Linked DNA regions of Homo sapiens. The protein of the gene in region 1 purifies or fractionates together with the protein of each later gene. This does not show direct contact. Each region holds a gene or a part of one and is shown in the gene's direction. Other genes may lie near its edges.

What was found. Proteins that work in one complex are often made in the same cells at the same time.
Region 2: the proteins of ZNF398 (region 1) and ZNF746 purify together in Homo sapiens (affinity purification with mass spectrometry; 2 studies listed by BioGRID and IntAct, with this or other methods). This does not show direct contact.

The regions. Positions count from the first base shown.
Region 1 is NC_000007.14:149,171,434-149,178,459, forward strand, and holds part of ZNF398 (zinc finger protein 398), read left to right. Parts: intron 1-5,034; coding exon 5,035-5,148; intron 5,149-7,026. UniProt on the Homo sapiens protein: Functions as a transcriptional activator.
Region 2 is NC_000007.14:149,473,787-149,480,812, reverse strand, and holds part of ZNF746 (zinc finger protein 746), read left to right. Parts: intron 1-3,057; coding exon 3,058-3,249; intron 3,250-3,765; coding exon 3,766-3,891; intron 3,892-5,329; coding exon 5,330-6,429; 3' UTR 6,430-7,026.

The DNA.
Region 1 (7,026 bases):
TCTCCGCTCACTGCAACTTCTGCCTCCTGGGTTCAAGTGATTCTCCTGCCTCAGCCTCCCCAGTAGCTGGGATCACAGGCATGCTGCGCCCCCACGCCCGGCTAATTTTTGCATTTTTATTAGAGACGAGGTTTCACCATGTTGGCCAGGCTGGTCTCAAATTCCTGACCTCATGATCCACCCGCCTCTGACCTCATGATCCACCTGCCTCGGCCTCCCAAAGTGCTGGGATTTACTTTTTATTATTTATTTATTTTGAGATGGAATCTTGCTCTGTAGCCCAGGCTGGAGTGCAGTGGTGTGATCTTGGCTCACTGCAACCTCCGCCTCCCAGGTTCAAGTGATTCTCCTGCCTCAGCCTCCCAAATAGCCTGTAGGCTCAAACCACCACACCTGGCTAATTTTTTTATTTTTTTATAGAGATGGGGTATAGCCATGTTGCCCAGTGTGGTCTCAAACACCTGGACTTAAGTGATCTGCCTGCCTTGGCCTTCCAAAGTGCTAGGATTACAGATGTGAGCCACCATGCTCGACAGTGGCCTGTTTTTGACCAAAACACCATTATGCAGTGCATGACTCCATGTGTCTTGCTCAAAACTGTCCTTATATTCAGCACAAATATAAACCTTTGTACTACTATACAAATGTTACATGGTACGTGACTGCAGTTAGGTACAGCCAACCACTCATCATTTAGGGGAAGTTTTGTATCAGCATAGAGACTACATACAGTAGTCCCCCTTTATTGATGGTATCGTTTTCCACAGTTTGTTACCTGCCGTCAACTGTGATCTGAAAATATTAAATGGAAAATTCCAGAAATAATTTATAAGTTTTAAGTTTGCCATTCTGAGTAGTATGATGAAATCTTGCACTATCCTGCCCTGTCTCATCTGGGGCGTGAATCATCCCTTTGTCCAGTGCATCCACACTGTATACGCTACCTGGCCATTAGTCACTTAGAAGCTATGTCAACTGTGGCAGTATTGCAGTGCTTATGTTAAGTACCCCGCGCTCCCCCCCTTTTTAAAAATAAATAATTGCCCCAAACTGCAAAAGTAGTAATGGTGGCAATTCAGATGTATCAGAGAAGCCGTCAAGTGCTTCCTTTATGTGAAAAGGTGAAATTTCTTGACTTAATAAGGAAGGAAGGAAGTTACATGCTGAGGTTGCCAAGATCTCTGGTAAGAACAAATCTTCTATCTGTGAAACTGTGAAGAAAGTAAAAGAAATTTGTACTAGTGCTACTGTTGCACCTCAAACTGCAAAAGTTACGGCCACAGTGTGTGATAAATACTTAGTTAATATGGAAACAGCATTAAAGGCAAGTACAGGCATCTCCAGGATATTGTGGGTTCAGTTCCAGACTACTGCAATAAAGTGAATATCACAGTACAAGTAACAATAACTTTTGTTTTCCCAGTGCATGTGAAAGTTAAGTTTACACTATGCTATACAGTCTATTAAGTTGGCAATAAATTATGTCTAAAAAAACAATGTACATACCTTAATTTAAAAATATTGCTAAGAATCCTAACAATCATCTGAACCTTCAGAGTCATAATCTTTTTGCTAGTGGCGGGTCTTGCCTCAGTATTGATGGCTGCTGACTAATCCGGGTGGTGGTTGCTAAAGGTTGGGGTGGCTGTGGCAATTTCTATTTTTTTTTTTTTTTTTTTTTTTTTTTTTGAGACAGAGTCCTGCTCTGTCGCCCAGACTGGGGTGCAGTGGCACGATCTCGGCTCACTGCAACCTCCGACTCCTAGGTTCAAGCAATTCTCTTGCCCCGGCCTCCTGAGTAGCTGGGATTACAGGCGCCTACCACCATGCCTGGCTCATTTTTTTGTATTTTTAGTAGAGACGGGGTTTCGCCATGTTGGCCAGGTTGATCTCGAACTCCCGACCTCAGGTGATCCACCCGTCTCGGCCTCCCAAAGTTCTGGGATTACAAGCGTGAGCCACCATGCCTGGCTGAAATATGTTTATTTATTTTTTTGAGACAGAGTCTAGCTGTGTCACCCAGGCTGGAGTGCATTGATGCTGAAATAAATTTCTTATGCAATAAGACTTCAAAGTAAAAATTACTCCTTGATCTGCGGGGCTGTAGAATGGATGTTGTTTTACAGGGATGAAAACAACACTCATCTCCTTGTTCATCCCCATCAGAGCTTGTGGGTGACCAGGTGCGTTGTCAATGAGCACTAGTATTTTGAAAGGAATTTTTTCTTCTGAGCAGTAGTTCTGAACAGTGGGCTTAAAATATTCTGTAAACCGTGCTGTAACAGATGTGCTGTCATCCAGGCTTTGTTGTTCCATTTCTAGTGCACAGGCAGTGTAGATTTAGCATAATTCTTTTTTTTTTTTTTTTTTTTTTTTTGAGACACAGTTTGGCTCTTGTTGCCCAGGCAGGAGTGCAATGGCGCTATCTCGGCTCACCGCAACCTCCGCCTCCTGGGTTCAAGCGATTCTCCTGCCTCAGCCTCCTGGGCAGCTAGGAAATACAGGCATGCACCACCACGCCCAGCTAATTTTGTATTTTTAGTAGAGACAGGGTTTCTCCATGTTGGTCAGACTGGTCTCAAACTCCTGACCTCAGGTGATCCGCCCGCCTTGGCCTCCCAAAGTGCTAGGATTACAGGCGTGACCCACCATGCCCGGCCTGATGTAGCATAATTCTTAAGAGCCCTAGGGTTTTCAGAATACTAAAATGAACACCGGGTTCAAGTCACCAGCTGCATCAGCCTGTAACAAGAGAGTCAGCTTGTCCTTTGAAGCCAGACATTGACTTCTCTCTAGTTATGAAAGTCCCAGATGACATATTCTTCCAATAGAAAGTTGTTTCTCATACATGAAAATTTGTTGTTTAGTGTAGCCCCCTTCCTCAAGTAATTGTAGCTAGGCGCGTGCCACCACAGCCAACTAATTTTTGTATTTTTAGTAGAGACAGGGTTTTACCATGTTGGTCAGGGTGGTCTTGAACTCCTGACCTCGTGACCTGCCCACCTCAGCCTCCCAAAGTGCTGGGATTATGAGCGTGAGCCACTGTGCCCAGCCCATTCAGAAAATTTTTAAAAACAAGCAGGTAAGTGTTTTAAAAGTCAGGTTTTTTGGCTAGGCATGGTGGGTCATGCCTATAATCCCAGCACTTTGGGAGGTTGAGGCAGGTGGGTCACCTGAGCTCAGGAGTTGAAGAACAGCCTAAGCAACATAGTGAGACCCCATCTTTACCAAAAATACAAAAAATTAGCTGGGCATGGTGGCACACACCTGTGGTCCCAGCTACTAGGGAGACCGAGGTGGAATAATAGCTTGAGCCTGGGAGGCAGAGATTGCAGTAAGCCAAGATTACGCCACTGTAGTCCAGCCTGGGTGATAGAGTGAGACCCTGTCTCAAAAACAAACAAACAAACAAAAGTCAGATGTTTTGAATGGAAAGTTAATCCTCTGGATATCGGTTCAGAGGTTTTCTTCCTTATATCCAGTCTTTCCCCCCCTCTGCCTTTTTCCTTATAGATATGTATGTGTATAACATCTGGAAGAGAACAAAGATAAGATTGGACTATGTTTAATACACTTCAGCTTTTCTTTTAGGTCAGAACAGGAGGTTGGCAAGGCAACTGTTGCATATGCTAAAATCTATTTCCCAAATCGCTCCCCATAACCGATGGTCGTTTGGGCTTTCGTCTTACCCCAGCCTCTTATTTCTGCTTTGAGAACACCTTTAGATTTCAGTGGCGTCTAACTGATTTAGAAGACATTGGGTAAAGTAGTCAGTTCTGTTAATTTGCTGTGAATTAAACCATATTCTGCCCACAAGGCTGTGTTTGAGAAATAACTATAGAGAGCTTCAGGGGACTCTCTGGAGCTTGACAAGCTCTCTTGTCAGCTTGCCAACTTGTCCATTTAGTCCAAAAAAAAAAAAATAATAAAGCCATATAGGCCTAGGTTGTAATAGCTAGCACAGCTGTTTTGGTACTGATCAGATGAGGCATGTTGTGTGCAAAGCCGATATTGGCTGTGCACTTTTTCTTTCAGAAAGAACCCCCAAGACCTGAAGGACTTGCCAATACTATATTCTTCCCCCTCCCAGCATTTAGGAAACAATGACTTGTATCATTTAATAGACAAAGATAATATATCTCATAGAAAGAGCCCAGAATTGGGAATCTGAAAAGTGTGTTTCTAGGGAGTTGGATTCTGTGTCTATACTGAACTAACTTTGTAATTCTGGAAGTTGATTTGTTTTTTGTTTGTTTGTTTGTTTTGAAATGGAGTTTTTTTGCTCTTGTTGCCCAGGCTGGAGTGCAATGGTGCGATCTCGGCTCACTGCAGCCGCTGCCTCCCAGGTTCAAGCAATTCTCTTGCCTCAGTCTCCTGAGTAGCTGGGATTACAGGCGCCTGCCACCACGCCTGACTAATTTTTTTTATTTTTAGTAGAGACAGGGTTTTGCCACGTTGGTCAGGCTCATCTTGAACTCTTGACCTCAAATGATCCACTTGCCTCGGCCTCCCAAAGTTCTGGGCTTACACGCGTGAGTTACCACACCCATCCTGTATGCATTTTTTAAAAGGCTGGTTCTGTGTTATTGTTATAGTTATTTAGAAATAAATATTTGGGGCCGGGCGCGGTGGCTCAAGCCTGTAATCCCAGCACTTTGGGAGGCCAAGGTGGGCGGATCATGAGGTCAGGAGATCGAGACCATCCTGGCTAACACGGTGAAACCCCATCTCTACTAAAAACAAAAAAATTTAAAAAAAACTTAGCTGGGCGTGGTGGCAGGCGCCTGTAGTCCCAGCTACTCGGGAGGCTGAGGCAGCGGGGAGAATGGCTTGAACCTGGGAGGCGGAGCTTGCAGTGAGCCATCGTGCCACTGCACTCCAGCCTGGGTGACAGAGCGAGACTCTGTCTCAAAAAAAGAAAAAAAGAAAGGAAAAATATTTGGGGCAAAATATAGTGTTCAGCAAACCAACTTGATTATCTTACCTTCTTATTCAAGTTCATGAAGGCCATTTTTTTTTCCTCCCACAAATTAGAGCCTGGTATTTCAACATCAGATATTCTGTCTTGGATTAAACAAGAAGAAGAGCCTCAGGTTGGGGCCCCACCGGAGTCCAAGGAGAGTGACGTGTACAAAAGCACTTATGCTGGTGAGTATGAAATTAAAGAGGTGTTCATGTCCATATCCAGCTCATGCCAGGACTGACTGAAGAAACAGCAGGTGAAATTTGTAGAGGCAAATATGTGGGAGAAGAATGAGGGAAAGAAAAAGCCATGCTCAACATTATGAATGAAACCAAACAGTCACTAAGATAAATTTGAAGTGAGTGAGAAAATACACTCTTACATGCAAAGACAAATGAGAATTGTCAGAAGAAGAAAAACAAGTGCATACAGACGAACCAAAATTATGGGGATGGGGAAAGACAGAAGACGATTTGAAAATCATGTAGAAAGGGTAGAAAACGTGGGAGTGGGGTGGGGAGACAAGCCCTGGAGACAGAAATGGCCATGGAGAGGTGTAAATGGGAATGTTAATTAAGAGCCCTCCCTCAGTGAAAGGAAAATCAATGATGGGAGAAGAAATATAAGTATCTTCCTTCTAAGATACTTTTGCCATTTGTATTGTAGAAGAGAATCTCAAGATCAGAAGGGTCCCAGTCATTTATACAGCTTAATGCATTCTGTTTTTTTTTTAGTATTTTCTGTGCTCTGTGTTCTTTTAGACTGGGAAACACAAATGAAACATAAGATAGTTTTAGCTCTTGAAAAAACTTATGCTAGGGACATACATATCAGTACTAGGCAAGCCTGTTAAGTGTCAAGGATGAGTGGGGTGGACGACTTATATAAATGAATGAGAAGTTTCAGGAACATGCATCAGGTTTGGCTTGGTGACTCGTGCCTGTAAGCCCAGCATTTTGGGAGGAGGTTGAGGCAGGTGGATCACTCGAGCCCAGGAGTTCAAGACCAGCCTGGGTAACATAGGGAGACCCTGTCTCTAAAAAAAAGGAAAATATGCATCAGTTTTAGTTTAGGTATTTAGATAAGACCTAAAGAAGGGCATAAAGCCACAATTGTACCTTAAAAGATTGGTATGATATGGCTGGGTATAATTTGGAAAGATGGGGAGAGAGGGGTAGCATTCTACAAAAGGGAGGACAGAGTAAGTCAAGATGCATAGCAGAAATGTATACTCTGTTCTCAGGGGAAGTAAAGAGACAGCTGACCACAGTGATGGGTTGATCTGATAGAATACAGAGAAATAGGAATAGATAATTATGTGATTTTAGGCTTTGTCACAACAGGCAATAGAGAAAGTTCTTGAGTAGAGGTAAAATATAGTGAAAGTAACGTTGGGAAGATTGATGCCAAGGATTTTCTGTTTCTTAACAGATAGCATAGAAGAGGTACAGTGTTAAATTTTCTGATGAGGGCTGGGTGTGGTGGCTCATGCCTGTAATCCCAGCACTTTGGGAGGCTGAGGCAGGTGGATTACTTGACACCAGGAGTTCGAGACCCCTGGTCAATATGGCAAAACCCCATCTCTACTAAAAATATAAAAATTACCTGAGCACAGCTGGACGCGGTGGCTCATGCCTGTAATCCCAGCACTTTGGGAGGCCGAGGTGGGTGGACCATGAGGTCAGGAGATCGAGACCATCCTGGCTAACACAGTGAAACCCTGTCTCTACTAAAAAGACAAAAAAATTAGTTGGGCGTAGTGGCGGGTGCCTGTAGTCCCAGCTACTCGGGAGGCTGAGGCAGGAGAATGGCGTGAACCCGGGAGGCGGAGCTTGCATTGAGCCGAGTTTGTGCCACTGCACTCCAGCCTGGGCGACAGAGCGAGACTCCGTCTCAAAAAAAAAAAATTACCTGAGCACGGTAGTGCATGCCTGTAATCCCAGCTACTCAGGAGGCTAAGGCAGGAGAATCACTTGAACCCAGGTAGTGGAGGCTGCAGTGAGCTGAGGTCACGCCACTGTACTCCATCGTGGGCAACAGAATGTGATCCTGTCATAAAATAA
Region 2 (7,026 bases), 300 kb from region 1:
TTAGTTCACTATTCACCATTCAATCATTTCCATTCTGTTGTTTAACCTACACATTGGATTTTAAAATTTCAGTTATTAGCCAGGCGCGGTAGCTCACGCCTGTAATCCTAGCACTTGGGGAGGCCGAGGCTGGCAGATTGCCTGAGCTCAGGAGTTCAAGACCAGCCTGGGCAACACAGTGAAACTCCATCTCTACTAAAATACATAAAAATTAGCTGGGCCTAGAGGCATGCACCTGTAGTCCCAGTGCTACTGGGGAGGCTGAGGCAGGAGAATTGCTTGAACCCGGGAGGCAGAGGTTGCAGTGAGCCAAGATCGCGCCACTGCACTCCAGCCTGGGCAACAGAGCGAGACTCCATCTCAAACAAACAAACAAACAAACAAACAAAACAACAGTTATTTTTTCTCACCATTCTAAAGAATGTTACATTTGATTCTTTTTCAAAATTTGGTCAGTTTTGATAGTCTTATTTCTCCATACTTTCATTCCCCCTTTTTATTTCTGTAAATAATTGAACTTTATATTCCTTATATGATAATTTTAATATCCAAAGTCATTGGTCATATTCTCCAGTTCATGATTTCTGCTGAGTTTGTGGTGCTGATTTTCTCGAGATGGTGATGTGTAATTGTGAGCTCATTGATTATTTGAAAGCTATGTTTAAAATGCTTTCCTCCTGAGAATGTGTGTGTGTTCCTCAGCTGGTCATCTGATGCCAATGCAGACTTAGGACCACTTCAAGCTACAGTCTTGACCTGGAAGTTTTTGGGCCACAATGGGCCTCCTGAGTAGCTGGGACCACAGGGGATGCCACCATGCCTGGCTAACTTTTTTTAAAAACTTTTTTTTTTCCCCTCTGTGGAGACAGGGTCTTCTATGTTGCCTAGGCTGGCTTTTTTTGTTTGTTTATTTGAAACAGGGTCTCACCTTGTCACCCAGCCTGAAGTGTAGTGGCACAAACATGGCTCACTGCAGCCTCAAACTCCTGGGCTCAAGAGCTCCTCCCACCTCAGCCTCCCAGACTGCTGAGATTACAGACATGAGCCACTGTACCCAGCCTACTCAGCAATTTTAGATATTCCACATTGGGAGGAATTTCTGTTTCTCTGCACATCTAGCCAGCCATATGTCAGAAATAGAAGAGCTAAATGCTGTTTTTACATCTGTTGAGATGATTATATTGTTTTTGCTATTAATCTTAACTTTGTTCGTTATATTTTCTAGTGTTATCCTTGAGCTCTCAGAATAAACCCAATGTGTTCATAATATGTCTTTTTCTTTTTTGAAAATATATTGCTGAGTTTGATTTGTAATTCTTTCATTTAGAATCTTTGCATATCTGTTCATATATGAGATTATTTTTTAAATTTGTTCATATACTACCCCTCTAGTTTGTGCAATAAAAATTGTCTTAGCCTCATAAAATGAGTTGACAGATGTTTTCTCTCAACATTTGAAGATATTCCATTGTCTTCTGATATCCTAGTTGCTGAAGAAAATCTCCTGTAGTCTGAATGTCATTATTTTCTCTTGGGTACCTTTTAAGGTTTTTCTCTTTGTCTTTGCTGTGGTTCCATTTCACATGAATGTTGTCTAGGTTTGTTTGTTTGTTTTATTACCTACTTGGGAATTGGTCTGTTCCTTCAAACTGTGGACTTAACAATGCCTTCAGTTTTGGAAAATTCTCAACCATTATTTCTTTACCTATTGCCATTACTCATTTCTCCATTCTCTTCTTCTGGGATTTCTACCAGCATGTGTTGGAATTTCTCATTCTGTCCTCCAGGTCTCTTAACTTTTTCATATTTTTCATTCTTTATCTCTCAGTGTTGTACTCTGGGTTATTTCCCTGGATCTCTCTCCCAAGTCACTAATATTCTCTCTAGCTGTGTTCAGTCTGTTGTTGTTGAGCCAGAGCCATCCATTTGAGTTTTTCATTTCCACAGCTGCCTCTGTCGTTTCTAGAATGTTGAGTTCTTTTTCAAATCTGCCTTTTTCAAAATAATTTGCTGTTCTTGCCTTAAAGATTCTGTTCTTTATCTCTTTGATGATCTTAGACATACTTAGGTTACTGTATCATTCAGCCTCTCCTTTTTTTCATTAGTTCTTGGGAGTGAACTCTGCCATGACTCTCATGGCCATTTGGCACCTCTTCTGTTTTGTAAGTTTTAGTTTTTCTTCTGGTTTTAGTTTTCCCTTAGGAGCCCCCTGTGGACTGCATTGTGTGGGTGCCCCTCTGAGGCAGATCTGCATTTGCCCATGCTGGGGCCTCCTGAGTTGCCATGGCTCTCAGCCAATTTTTCTGTGAATTTCTCAGTTTATGGTGTCTGCCCGTGTGGGTAGTGTGAATTCTGTGTGGACATGGGATTCCAAGTTTTTATGGGTTTCTTTCCCACACATAGCCCTGGACAAGTAGGCTGCTTCCTGGTGGCTCCCGCAGGCAGACAGAGTTTTCCTAGTCCCCATCTCACAGACAGGCCAGAGCCTATGACTCCTGGCTTCAGGCAGGCGGCTCGGCCACACTCCCAACCTCACATGGACATGAAAGCCCAGCCCCTAAGGCCTGTATCCTACTCCAACAACTCTCTAGGTCACTTGCCTTCCACTGTAACTCGTGATTGACTCTGTGTGTTCTCTGTCATTCTTGCCTCTGGGATCTTTTCTTTTGCACTCACTTAAATATATGAGGGGGGAAGGTTTTGGGGGGACTTGGGGTTCACTTTTGTTCAGCATTTCTTGTGTTTCAAGTGAGGGCAGGCCATCCCCAGGGCAACTTAGTCTCCCTCTGGACCACCAGCCTAGCCCTGAGAATGTGCTTGTGTATTCTTCCCCTCCCCCGCCTCAGCCTTTCCTACCCTACCCGCATTCCCAATACCATGTGACCTCAGGCTCTGCCCTAGGCTCCCATCCTGTTTGCTGCTGCCTCCCTTCCCACCAGGCTCTTTTGCTGTTGGACCCTTGTAAGGCCCCTGTGTCTATCTCTCCGGCTGGATGCGTGTATGCCCCAGGGCTGAGGGGCCGTGATGCTGTATCCTCACACTCACTCCCTTTCCTAGGCTCGGGGCCCCCAGTTCCCGCCCCAGACCTCTTGATGCAGATCAAGCAGGAGGGTGAGCTCCAGCTCCAGGAGCAGCAGGCCCTGGGCGTGGAGGCGTGGGCAGCCGGGCAGCCAGATATTGGGGAGGAGCCCTGGGGCCTCAGCCAGCTGGATTCCGGAGCAGGAGACATCTCCACGGATGCCACCTCTGGTAAGTGGCTGAGACGGGGACATAAGGAACAAGTTGCAGGGATCACAGGAGGGACAGGGGAGGGCTCGTGGCAGCATGGGGGAGCTGTGGGCCCTCAACACTTCCGGCCTGACAACTTTAGAAATTTTCCCGTCTCGAGGTAGGACTGTACTAAAGGACTTGTCTCGAGCCTCTCTCGGGTGGCTGATGCTGTCCCTGGGTGTCTCTCTGGCCCTGTTCCAGTGGCCCCTATATCACCGTGAGGCCGCTTCTCTTGCCCCAGCATTGGGCATTGAAGTCACTGGCTGCCTCTATTCGAGAGGGGCCCGTGGGAAACATACTGATGATGTCTGAGCTTCCCAGTGCCTCAGAAAGGGGGACAAAAGACACTGGGTTCAGAGAGGTTGGGTCCTCGTGCCCACTCAGAAAAGCCCCCAGTGGGGGGACCTCAGAGTTTAGCCTGCTCTCCTCCCCAACAGTCTTCTGTCCTCCCCGTCCGTCCCCTAACCCACCGGCTCTGCTCTCCCCTTACCGCAGGTGTCCATTCCAACTTTTCCACCACCATCCCGCCCACCTCCTGGCAAACGGATCTCCCTCCCCACCATCCCTCTTCAGCATGCTCGGACGGGACCCTGAAGCTCAACACAGCAGCCTCCACGGAAGGTACAGGTGGCGAGAGGAGGAAGGGAAGGGCCATGCTTGCCTGTGGGGAGTACCTCGGTCCAGGCATCCCATTTTCACTGGTGAACTGCTCTGACCTTCCAGCCAACAGACATTAGGGTGTCTGCACTCTTATGACCCTTTGCACATTCTGTTATTTATCTCCTTGCCAAATCATAGGTGTCAGCAGCCCTTCTTGAGGACATCCATGTTTCAGTCTGTTGCTTTTTCATATGGTGTTAAGTGGTCTATTCTAACAAGCCTATCTCTTGAAGGATATACCTCCTCCCCAGCTTAGGAAACTGTGGCTTCTCTCTGGCATGGAGGAAAACAAAATTGAACTGAAACCACTTCTTAGATATTGGTACTACCAAAGACAGGTGTCTGAAGGCCGATTTCAGAAGAACCACCACCAAATTTATCTGTTAGCTTTCTGTTTACTTCTGTTTTGAAGACCAGTCACCTGTTACTATAATAACGTCATATTTTAGCACCCAAAAAACGTGCTAATAGCCAAGATCCCTGATGTGAAACCTCAGAATGTGAAGTTGAAGTACGCTTATATAAAATCAAACACATTCTTTTTTTTTTTTTTTTTTTTTTTTTTTTTTGAGGCGGAGTCTCACTCTGTCCCCCAGGCTTGGAGTGCAGTGGGGCGATCTCTGCTCACTGCACGCTCCGCCTTCCGGGTTCACGCCATTCTCCTGCTCAGCCTCCCAAGTAGCTGGGACTACAGGTGCCCGCCACCACGCCCAGCTAATTTTTCGTATTTTTAGTAGAGACGGCGTTTCACCATGTTAGCCAGGATGGTCTCAATCTCCTGACCTCATGATCCCCCCGCCTTGGCCTCCCAAAGTGCTGGGATTATAGGCGTGAGCCACCGCGCCTGGCCAAACACATTCTTATTCACTAATATTTTTATCATTAGCTGGTGGGTCCATTTATTGAATGCTGCTGCATGTCAAATAGCTCACTAAGGTGCTTTCAGACATGTTGTCTGGTTTAATCCTCACACCTGTGAAGTGGGCATTCACAGATGAGCTGTGGGTTAGAAACTGCCTGCAGCCCACAGCTGGTGTGTGGCCGAGCTGTCTGAACCCCCATTCCCTGCACTGTGGTGGGGCACAGTGCCTGCAGCAGTTCGAATTCCTTTCTGAGGATCAATTCATGCTTAGCCTTAACAGCCAAACTGAAAAATGGAGCCTGGGGAGCAGATATGGTGGCTTGTCCTGTGGTGAAGGTGCCAGAACACTGGTGTCCTCGAGGGGGAGGCAGCCTCACAGCCACCAGGCTGCTCTGCTGAGCTGCCCTCTGGGCTCAGCCACGAGGGCCTGGGTGGAGTTTGTCTGGCCAGGCAGCTGCTGAGCAGGTGATGGTGGCAGATCGTGGCTCGCTCAGCAGTTAAGGGACAGGTCAGTATCTGTCTTTCTGTCTTTCTCAGCAGATGTAAAAATTGTAATAAAAACAGAAGTCCAGGAAGAGGAGGTGGTGGCCACACCCGTACATCCTACTGACCTAGAGGCTCACGGGACCCTGTTTGGACCAGGCCAAGCCACACGGTTCTTCCCTAGTCCTGCCCAGGAAGGAGCCTGGGAAAGCCAGGGCAGCTCCTTCCCCAGCCAGGACCCTGTGCTGGGGCTGCGAGAGCCCGCCCGGCCTGAGAGGGACATGGGTGAGCTCAGTCCTGCTGTGGCCCAGGAGGAGACCCCTCCTGGGGACTGGCTCTTCGGAGGGGTCCGGTGGGGCTGGAATTTCCGGTGTAAACCGCCAGTGGGCCTGAACCCGAGGACGGGGCCCGAGGGGCTTCCTTACTCCTCCCCGGACAACGGAGAGGCCATCTTGGACCCCAGCCAGGCCCCAAGGCCATTCAACGAACCCTGTAAATACCCTGGCCGGACCAAAGGCTTTGGCCACAAGCCAGGGCTGAAGAAGCACCCCGCGGCGCCCCCCGGGGGCCGGCCCTTCACCTGCGCCACGTGTGGGAAGAGCTTCCAGCTGCAAGTCAGCCTGAGCGCGCACCAGCGCAGCTGTGGGGCGCCCGACGGGTCGGGCCCGGGCACAGGCGGTGGCGGCAGCGGCAGTGGCGGCGGCGGTGGCGGCAGCGGTGGGGGCAGCGCACGGGATGGCAGCGCCCTTCGGTGTGGGGAGTGCGGCCGTTGCTTCACGCGCCCCGCGCACCTCATCCGCCATCGCATGCTGCACACCGGCGAGCGGCCCTTCCCCTGCACCGAGTGTGAGAAGCGCTTCACCGAACGCTCCAAGCTCATCGACCACTACCGAACGCACACGGGCGTGCGGCCCTTCACCTGCACCGTCTGCGGCAAAAGCTTCATCCGCAAGGACCACCTCCGCAAGCACCAGCGCAACCATGCAGCGGGCGCCAAGACCCCGGCCCGAGGCCAGCCACTCCCGACGCCGCCCGCACCTCCTGATCCCTTCAAGAGCCCCGCCTCCAAAGGACCTTTGGCCTCCACAGACCTTGTGACCGACTGGACTTGTGGCCTCAGCGTCCTGGGACCCACCGATGGCGGGGACATGTGAGCGCCTCCAGCCCCATAGCCCCTGCCGGCCGCACGTGTAAAAAGCCCCGTGTGCAGGCAGCAGGGCGGCGTGGAAGCTTCAGGCAGACGCGGGACGGGGAGAACCAAATGTCCAAGTTGCTGAACTGATGATCACTGGAGAAAGAGAAACTATCCACCAGGACAGCTGCCACCTCTAAACCAAGTAGAATTCTCTGTGAAATGGGAGCGCCGTAGAATTTTAAGTAATTTAATTGCAAACCTGTTTTGTTTTTTGTTTTTTGTTTTTTTTTAATTCTTGAGGAAAAAGCTGGAAAATAGTAATAGGGCTATTTAAATTTTGTAGGTACTTTTGGTTTTCAGGGCGTGCATTTCTGTCACTATCTCACTGAGTCTGATAGTGTGTTGGAAGGTTGGCCAGTTGGGGACCCCTGGCCCACTGACTCCTGGGGATGGGGTCCTGTGTGTGCCCCTGCTCTGCCCAGTTGGGCTGAGTGGGCCTAGCGCACCAAGCCCCTGGGCAGTGAGGGCCATTGGGTCCCTTGGAGCACACCTCAGTGCAGCAGGAAGGACCCCTCCGGGAGTAGCGGTTGCATTTCCCAGCTTGCCTCTCCTGAAA